2 linked regions of the Homo sapiens genome follow. The protein of the gene in region 1 purifies or fractionates together with the protein of each later gene. This does not show direct contact. Each region holds a gene or a part of one and is shown on either strand. Other genes may lie near its edges. The genes, in order: TRPV5 and RPIA.

Region 1 (4,120 bases):
TGCAGGGGGTGGAGAGTTGTGGGGTGAGTTACAGGGTGCCTCTTTCTTCTGCATTATACCCTTAGATGCAAAGGTCTAAACAGCTTGTTTATGTGGGTGTCTCAAGGCAAAACAGGTTGAGATACTCATTCTACAGGACCTCTGTTAATCTTTGCTTCTACCATACCCAGATTTGAACCCAGAAAGAGATAAAGCTGGAGCCTCTCCAACTAGACATATGTGTATTGGCCCCAAAGGCAAGCACATGGTGTAGGGGGAAGAACAGAAAGGACAGGCCGATGAGTGGCTCCTCTGAGGTCCCCACCTCCAAATCCCTCTCTTCCAATAGCCCCAGGAGCCAGGGCGAAAAAGTGTTTTTATTTTATTTATTTATTTTTTTTGAGACGAAGTCTCACTCTATTGCCCAGACTGGAGTGCAGTGGTGCGATCTCGGCTCACTGCAACTTCCGCCTCCTGGGTTCAAGTGATTCTCCTGCCTCAGCCTCCCGAGTAGCTGGGACTACAGGTGCCCACCACCATGCCTGACTAGTTTTTTTATTTTTGGTAGAGACGGGGTTTCAGCATGTTGGCCAGGCTGCTCTCGAACTCCTGACCTCAGGTGATCCACCCATCTCGGCCTCCCAAAGTGCTGGGATTACAGGTGTGAGCCACCACGCCCAGCCAAAGTGTTTTCATTTAAAGAAGAAGCTTTTAATCTAAAGGTGGGGCCTGGTTTTACCTGTTAAGGCAGTGCTCCTAGGAGGGGCCTTTGTGAGGAGTCAGTTCCCTGCCCCGTCTCACCCAGGGAATCAGTCCCAGGGAGCCTGGTGTCCCTGACCAGCCTAGAGTGGTCAGGGCTGAGATTGCAAATTCACCCCCATCCTGAGGCCACTGCACAAACAAAGTCCTTGCCTCCCTGGCCCTCTATCCCCACTGCCCCTCTGCAGAGGGTCCAAGTTGGGGCTGGAAGCTCACTTTCTCAGAGACCCAGGGGTCCCACTCTAAAGCAGGAAGGTGAGATTCCACTGGAGGTATTGGGTGGGGAGATGAGGAAGCAGAGGGCTTGACAGTATGAGGGCTCAGAGGTACTTGGGACCAGGCCCAGTGTAAACTGCAAATGCAGGACCCCTTGTTCAAAATTATTAAGAACTTGAAGATGAGGACAGCAGGGCATTGAACAAAGCACAGGAATCTTCTGGAGTACAGGGGAGCCCTTTGTGACTGCTAATGTCTGCTCAACAACCTCACCCCTCAGGCAGCTGTTGGGTGGGAGGCAAGCCCCAAAACACTTGGAGGAAGAAGCAGCCCACAGGATTCGTCCCTGCCCCAGCTGCTCTTCCTGGGACTGGACCTCAGGGCTAAGCCATGAAATGATTTACCTGCAGGTGTGCTAGCCCTGCCCGAACTAAGAGCTCTCCAGGAGCAGGCACAAGTCTCATTCAATCTTTATGTCATTGGGATCTAACACCCCTCTGCACACAGTAGACTCAATAAAAGGCAGATGGACTGAACTCAGAGCCCTCCAGTGTCACCTGAGCTGCCCTCCTCCACTGGTCAGCACCCAGTGTTACACCAAACAAAGCGCTCCTCCCCTTTCCCACACAGTCCACTTTCATTCAAATGAATGGCGTTTCCTTATCGTGCTTCCACCACCCACAGGAGTGCATCCCTTCTTCAGCAGCCTGCTTCTGCCTTCCCTCCCCATCCCACACAACCTGGCTTCTTCCCTCTGGTCCTTTTTGGTCCTTTCACTCCCCCTTGGCTGTCATTCTGCCTCTGTCCTTAGGTCTACCCTCAAGATTTTCCTGTGTGGCCCAAAGCCACATCCTCCACCGCCACTAAAAGGGGCCAGCTGGGATTCTGTAATTAGGTGGGCTGGAAGGAAAGGGTATGTCTGAGTGACTGGCACTGACAATACACTTCTAGGGTGCTGTATTCGGAAAGCAGGCCCAGGTGGGTCAGAGGGTCTGAGGATCACGGCGGTAGGGCCACGGATCGTTCTAGGAAGCCTACCTCTTCTGCTGCAGCATATGAAGCTTGTCCAGGTGCTGGTCCCAGTCTTGTTCTCTGACCAGAAAGGAGGGCAGAAGTTTCTGGAGTTGGCTCCCGGGCCCTTCTGCCTTAGGTAGAAAACCCCCCATGTCTTCTCCTTGCAGACACTGGCAGATTATAGAAATGTGGCGAAAGAAACAGGTCTAGGATGACAGCAACTGAGCAAGAGATGGGGTCTATTTGGGGCTGGGACTCTGAGTTTATCTCCTGTATGACTTGTGTATGCAGCATGCAGCTTGTAGGTGTGTGTGTGTGCATGCAGTATGTGGGTTGTGGGGTGTGCGTGTATGCACAGTGTGTGGCTGTGGTGTATGTGTGTGCATGCAGTGTGTGGTTGTGAGGTGGTGTGTGTGCATGCAGGTGCGCTGAGGGGACTGACCGCCCTGCCTGGGGAGAAGTGCTTTTCCTGGAGGGGGAGGAGCTCTTTGCAGAGCTGAGCCCCACAGCCACAGAACCACCCTGGGGAAGAAAAGGAGGAGGGGAAGGAAGGTTCCTAACTGTGGGCTGGGATGGCTGAGACCCGAGAAGCTAAGAGGTGGGGCAGAGGAATTTGGAAAAAGAAAAGGGATGGAAGGTGGGTCCACAAACAAGGTGCACAGTTAGTTGCATGAGGGAGAGGAGGAAATAAAGACTTCCAGCTCAAGAGTCAGGCAGAGCCTGGTTCAAATCCTGACTCTTATCCCTTACAGTTAGGTGAGCTTTCTGAGCCTCAGTTCCTAACCTGTGAAATTGGGGTAACGGCTATGCCGTCTCACGGGAGCATCTGTAAAGCATGTGTCACAAGTACTCAATCACTGCCGATCCTCCTTCCACAAGAGGGCTCAAGAGACCCCCGGGCTGCTTCTCAGAGCTTCCCATTTATGTGTCTTGTGGTCATCTCTGTCCTCAACCCTGTACCTCAAAGGAGGGTTTCTGACCCCCACTTCCCAGGCCAATCCCTCTCTGTGAGAAGTCCTCATGACCGTGACCGGCCAGCTTCCTGGAGCGTCGCCGAGCAGGCTCTGGTACCTGGGGACGCAGGTCAGAGGAGCCCCCAGGGGCCTCGAGTTATTATGGAGGTTGAACAGCAGAAACTGAGCAAAGGTAGACGACAAATAAATCGTGATTCCATGTTTGGGACTCTTTCCAGGAATGAAACACCAGGAGGAATAAGTAATGTTGCACTATTTTATATATTTTATATTATATTTTATATATTAAGTAGTTTCCCTTATCCACAGTTTCACTCTCTGATGGTTCAGTTACCTAAGGTCAGCCACAGTTGGAAAATAGGTGAGTACAGTACTATAACATATTTTGAGAGACAGAGAGAAAGAGAACATTCACATAACTTTATATTATTATAATTTTCATTTTATTGTTGTTAAACTCTTTTTTTTTTTTTTTTGAGACAGAGTTTCACTTTCGTTGCCCAGGCTGGAGAGCAATGGTGTGATCTTGGCTCACTGCAACATCCACCTTCCAGGTTCAAGTTATTCTCCTGCCGCAGCCTCCCTAGTAGCTGGGATTACAGGTGCCCACCACCACGCCTGGCTAATTTTTGTATTTTTAGTAGAGACAGGGTTTTACCATGTTGGCCAGGCTAGTCTCGAACTCCTGACCTCAGGTGATCTGCTTGCCTCGGCCTCCTGAAGTGCTGGGATTACAGGCGTGAGTCACTATGCCCGGCCTAAACTCTTCACTGTGCCTAATGTATAAATTAAACTTCATCATATGTATGTATGTATGTATGTATGTATGTATGTATGTATGTATGTATGTACGTGTAGGAAAAAAGATAGTATATACAGGGTTTGGTGCTATCTAAGGTTCCTGGCATCCACTGGGGCGTCTTGGAATGTATCCCCTGAGGATAAAAGGTGACTACTGTATATGATAGCTTGTATTTATGTTCTCATTTTTTTTATTATTATACTTTAAGTTCTAGGGTACATGTGCACAATATGCAGGTTTGTTACATATGTATACATGTGCCATGTTGGTGTGCTGCACCCATTAACTGTCATTTACATTAGGTATATCTCCTAATGTATCCCTCCCCCCTCCCCCAACCCCACGACAGGTCCTGGTGTGTGATGTTCCCCTTCCT
Region 2 (3,600 bases), on another chromosome or scaffold:
TGGACTAGAGAACAGGAAGCCCTACTCCCCAGAGATTCTACACAAAGAACCTCCAATAACCCCAACACTTTCGTATTTGTGTCCACACTGCACACAATTGAACAAACATGTACTGGGCAGGACCCACTGTGACCAATGCTAAATGAAGGTTAACTACCCTCCAGGAGCTTACCCTTTAAGGGGCTGGAAGAAACGAACACACAGATGACCAAAACATGAGATACAACATAAAGCACATAAGAGGCATGAAGTGCTACAGAATCACGGAAGAGAAATCTTCCTCTCCTTAGGATGCTAAGGAAAAACTGAAAGGAGGAAATGGCCTTTAAGCCAAACCCTGAAGGGCATATATGATTTTAACAGGTGCCCCCAAAAGGTCACTGTAGATCTCCCCAAAATTACCTAACTTCATGAAATGATGTGGTCAGAATCCAGTGTTTTGGGGCTCTAGCCTAAGGTCAGGGCTTGCAGATTTTTATTTAATCAAATACATGACTATAACACAAAGGTCAGGGAGATGCGCCACCAAATATTAATGTAAATTCATTAACAGGACAACTTAGATATGGGGCTTTTCTAATTGTATTCTCATGTGGATTACATTTATCTATTAGCTATTCACTGTATGCAGATATTTTGAAATTTCAGCTTATTGTCTCAATTTTACAACGGAGGCACTGAATCCCAAAGGTAGGGTCAAATTAACACATTTTACATTATCTCTGTTAATCCCCATAGAAAATCCTATTGCCAATCAGACTTACAACAAGCTACACCAGAACAGGGTAGCAGTGGAAAGAGTAGAAGGTCACACTGGAACATCCCTTCTACAGAACTGGCTGAGCCACAGGTTACCACATTGTCCACTCCCACTCAAACAGGCTGTGGTGAAGCTCATCCAACATCATCTAAGCAAAATAATTTTGTAAAGCATTAACAAATGTAAAGAACTATTATCGGAGAAGAAAAGAGACTCTAATACCACTTTCTAATAAGTAGAAACGAGAGATAAAAAGCCAATAAGACCAAGGAAACTACACCACAGGGCAGACATACTCCACTTGGCTTCCTTATTATAATTAAGATACTTGATTGGTGACAGCAAAACCACTTGGATTAAAAAAACTCCACTAACAGCACCACACCTGCCACTTAACAAACAAGTAGGGACCACGACCTGACTGAATAACAGCTAAACATCTCTGCAGACCCGCCTTAAAAAATAAACCAGCATCCTCCAGACTTAGTCCACCCAGCCCTATGGAAAGAAGGAAGTTTGAAGCCCCGGGTCTTCCCTTCCCTCCAAGAGTACACTCAGGGGCCGGCGCGCACCAAGCCCAGAACCTCCTTCGACTGAAATTTCAAAGCACTAGCAAACCAACTCTCCGCCGGCTTCCGGGTCAGTAAAGAGAAATGAAAACCTCTCCGCAGCCCCAAAGCCCACCATTTTCCATTTATTGATAAGGAGGCCACAAGGCAAGTGCCTCTAGCCCCCATTCCAAACATCAGACAGCACCAGGCTCCACTTTGCAAACTGTTCCAGCTGGACAAGGAGTCTTTAGAAAGCTCAAGTATTAGAAGATTCGCCCCCAACCGATTCCACATCTAAAAGGTCTTTAAGGAGCAGGGAAGAGGGGTCTAAACTCGGGTAAAGTGCACACCCTCTACCCTCTCACTCAGCTCCCGCCCTGCCAGGAGCTAGGCGCGCCCCGGCAGCACCCACAACGCGCAACAGTAGCCCATCACGCCAAGGACATGCGCCCCGCGCCCCACGTTTCGAAGTGCTCACCCTCACGTGGTTCTCCACAGCCGCGCGGCCCGCCAGCTTCTTGGCCTCCTCGGCCTTGGACATCGTGGAGGGGGCCGGGCAGATGCTGTTGGAGTCCCCGCAGCTGGTGCTTGTGTTGCCAGCACCGCCACGGGTCCCAGACTGTGCACGCCCCGGCAGCCGCACGTGGGAACCCGGGAGGTCCCAGCTGTTCCCTCCTCCGCCGGAGGCCGCGCCCCCGGCCCTCCCGGGCAGCGGGGCCAAGACCCGCCCGTAGAGGGTGCTGAAGGGCCCGGGGCGCTGCATCCCGACGCCTCGCTCCGGCCTCCGCTGAAGTCCCGCCCCCGGCTCCCCCGGAAATCTGGTCGCTTACGCACACAGTCTGCGTGCCCTGCTGCGCGGGTCTTGCTGGGAAATGTAGTTCTGTGGCTTCGAGGAACCCCTATCTGCGCCTCAGTCTGGACTACCAATCCCATAATGCTCTCCGCGACGGAATGCGCAATCGCCGGCGACGGGCTCCGGCACTTCGCTCTGTGAAGTACCATTAGCCGCGGGAATATCAGTATGGTGACTCCTTACCCTGGGGAAGTGTACTTAGGCCACGGCTAGGTGAAGCCCAGGGATATTTCTGTTCGCCCATGCATCCGAGAAAGGAGTGTTAGACCTGACCCTGTTGTTTCTCCCAGCAGTGAGAACGTGGCCATGGACAAGAATTCCAAGTAGTGGCACTTCTGTAGACGACGCGGCCCTTTTGGGGTTACTACAGCCCAGGAAACTCACATGCGACACGGCGCCAGCTGAAGTCCATCTAGACCCCCGCAGACCCAAGGTCACAAGTTGAGAACCCCCTGCCGTGGACATTCTTCTGCACCTAGTGGTGAAGCAGGTGGAGCTGCACCTTGCTCCGCCCATTTGGAGACTGGTTCTGCACATATGAGTGTGCCCTGCAGCGATCCTGCAATCCTTCGTGACTAACAAGGACTTTCTGTGAAAACAGATTTATCTTTTCTTCTCTACCTTTAAGGTTTCTTGCTGTTGAGAATAGTTAAGGGACGAGGAATTCTTATTGCCCCCATTTTACAGGCAAAGAAACTAATGCTGACCCCAACCTTACCGACCACTTGGAGGTCCCTAAAAACACATGACCTTTGTGTTTCTCGGCTGTTAGTGGAATCCTTTCTGTCTGCTCATGAACTCATCTTCAAACGCATTCCAGGCCTTCAGAACTCTTCCGTGAGCGCAAGTCACTGGTATGGGCCACTGTTAACTGCCGGTTATCACCTAGATTTTCTTAACTATGCTTTGCCCTCTGAGGCCGTGAGCTCTTGAATCTTCACCTTAGTCTGTAGGAGGAAAAGTTGTTTGAGATGATATTTGAATCCTTCATTTTAGGCCAAATTCAGAACATAGCAAAAGGTTCTGGCTAACATGCAGAACAGTATGTCTGGACTCCCACTACTGTTGGTCTGCAAAGTTGAAGGCTACTCTAGGCAAATATGTCACCTTTAATGTATCTCCTTAGGAGGAGTCTTTCACCTTATTCATGCTCCTCAGCACCCACACCAAAAGATTCATGAAGTAAATGTTACCTAGTCTCTGCTTTACCCCATTACCCCCGGCCTGAGGACCTTTGAACCATTTTAAATGCTCTACCTGCCAGCCTGGCCATCTGTGCATTGCTTGCTCCATCCACCCTTCTGACTCAGCTGAAATACCACCTTCCCAAAGAAGTCTAAGTGACCACCTCATCTAAATTGGGTTTCCTGCCCACCCCTCCTCTATCACTTTGCGCATGGTTGTATTTCTATCACAGAACTTCCGTCCATCATTCG

Evidence for each region.
Region 2: the proteins of TRPV5 (region 1) and RPIA purify together in Homo sapiens (affinity purification with mass spectrometry; 2 studies listed by BioGRID and IntAct, with this or other methods). This does not show direct contact.

Annotation. Positions count from the first base shown.
Region 1 is NC_000007.14:142,931,340-142,935,459, forward strand, and holds the start of TRPV5 (transient receptor potential cation channel subfamily V member 5), read right to left. Parts: upstream 2,408-4,120; 5' UTR 2,121-2,407; coding exon 1,993-2,120; intron 1-1,992. UniProt on the Homo sapiens protein: Constitutively active calcium selective cation channel thought to be involved in Ca(2+) reabsorption in kidney and intestine. Required for normal Ca(2+) reabsorption in the kidney distal convoluted tubules.
Region 2 is NC_000002.12:88,690,173-88,693,772, reverse strand, and holds the start of RPIA (ribose-5-phosphate isomerase), read right to left. Parts: upstream 2,101-3,600; 5' UTR 2,075-2,100; coding exon 1,790-2,074; intron 1-1,789. UniProt on the Homo sapiens protein: Catalyzes the reversible conversion of ribose-5-phosphate to ribulose 5-phosphate and participates in the first step of the non-oxidative branch of the pentose phosphate pathway.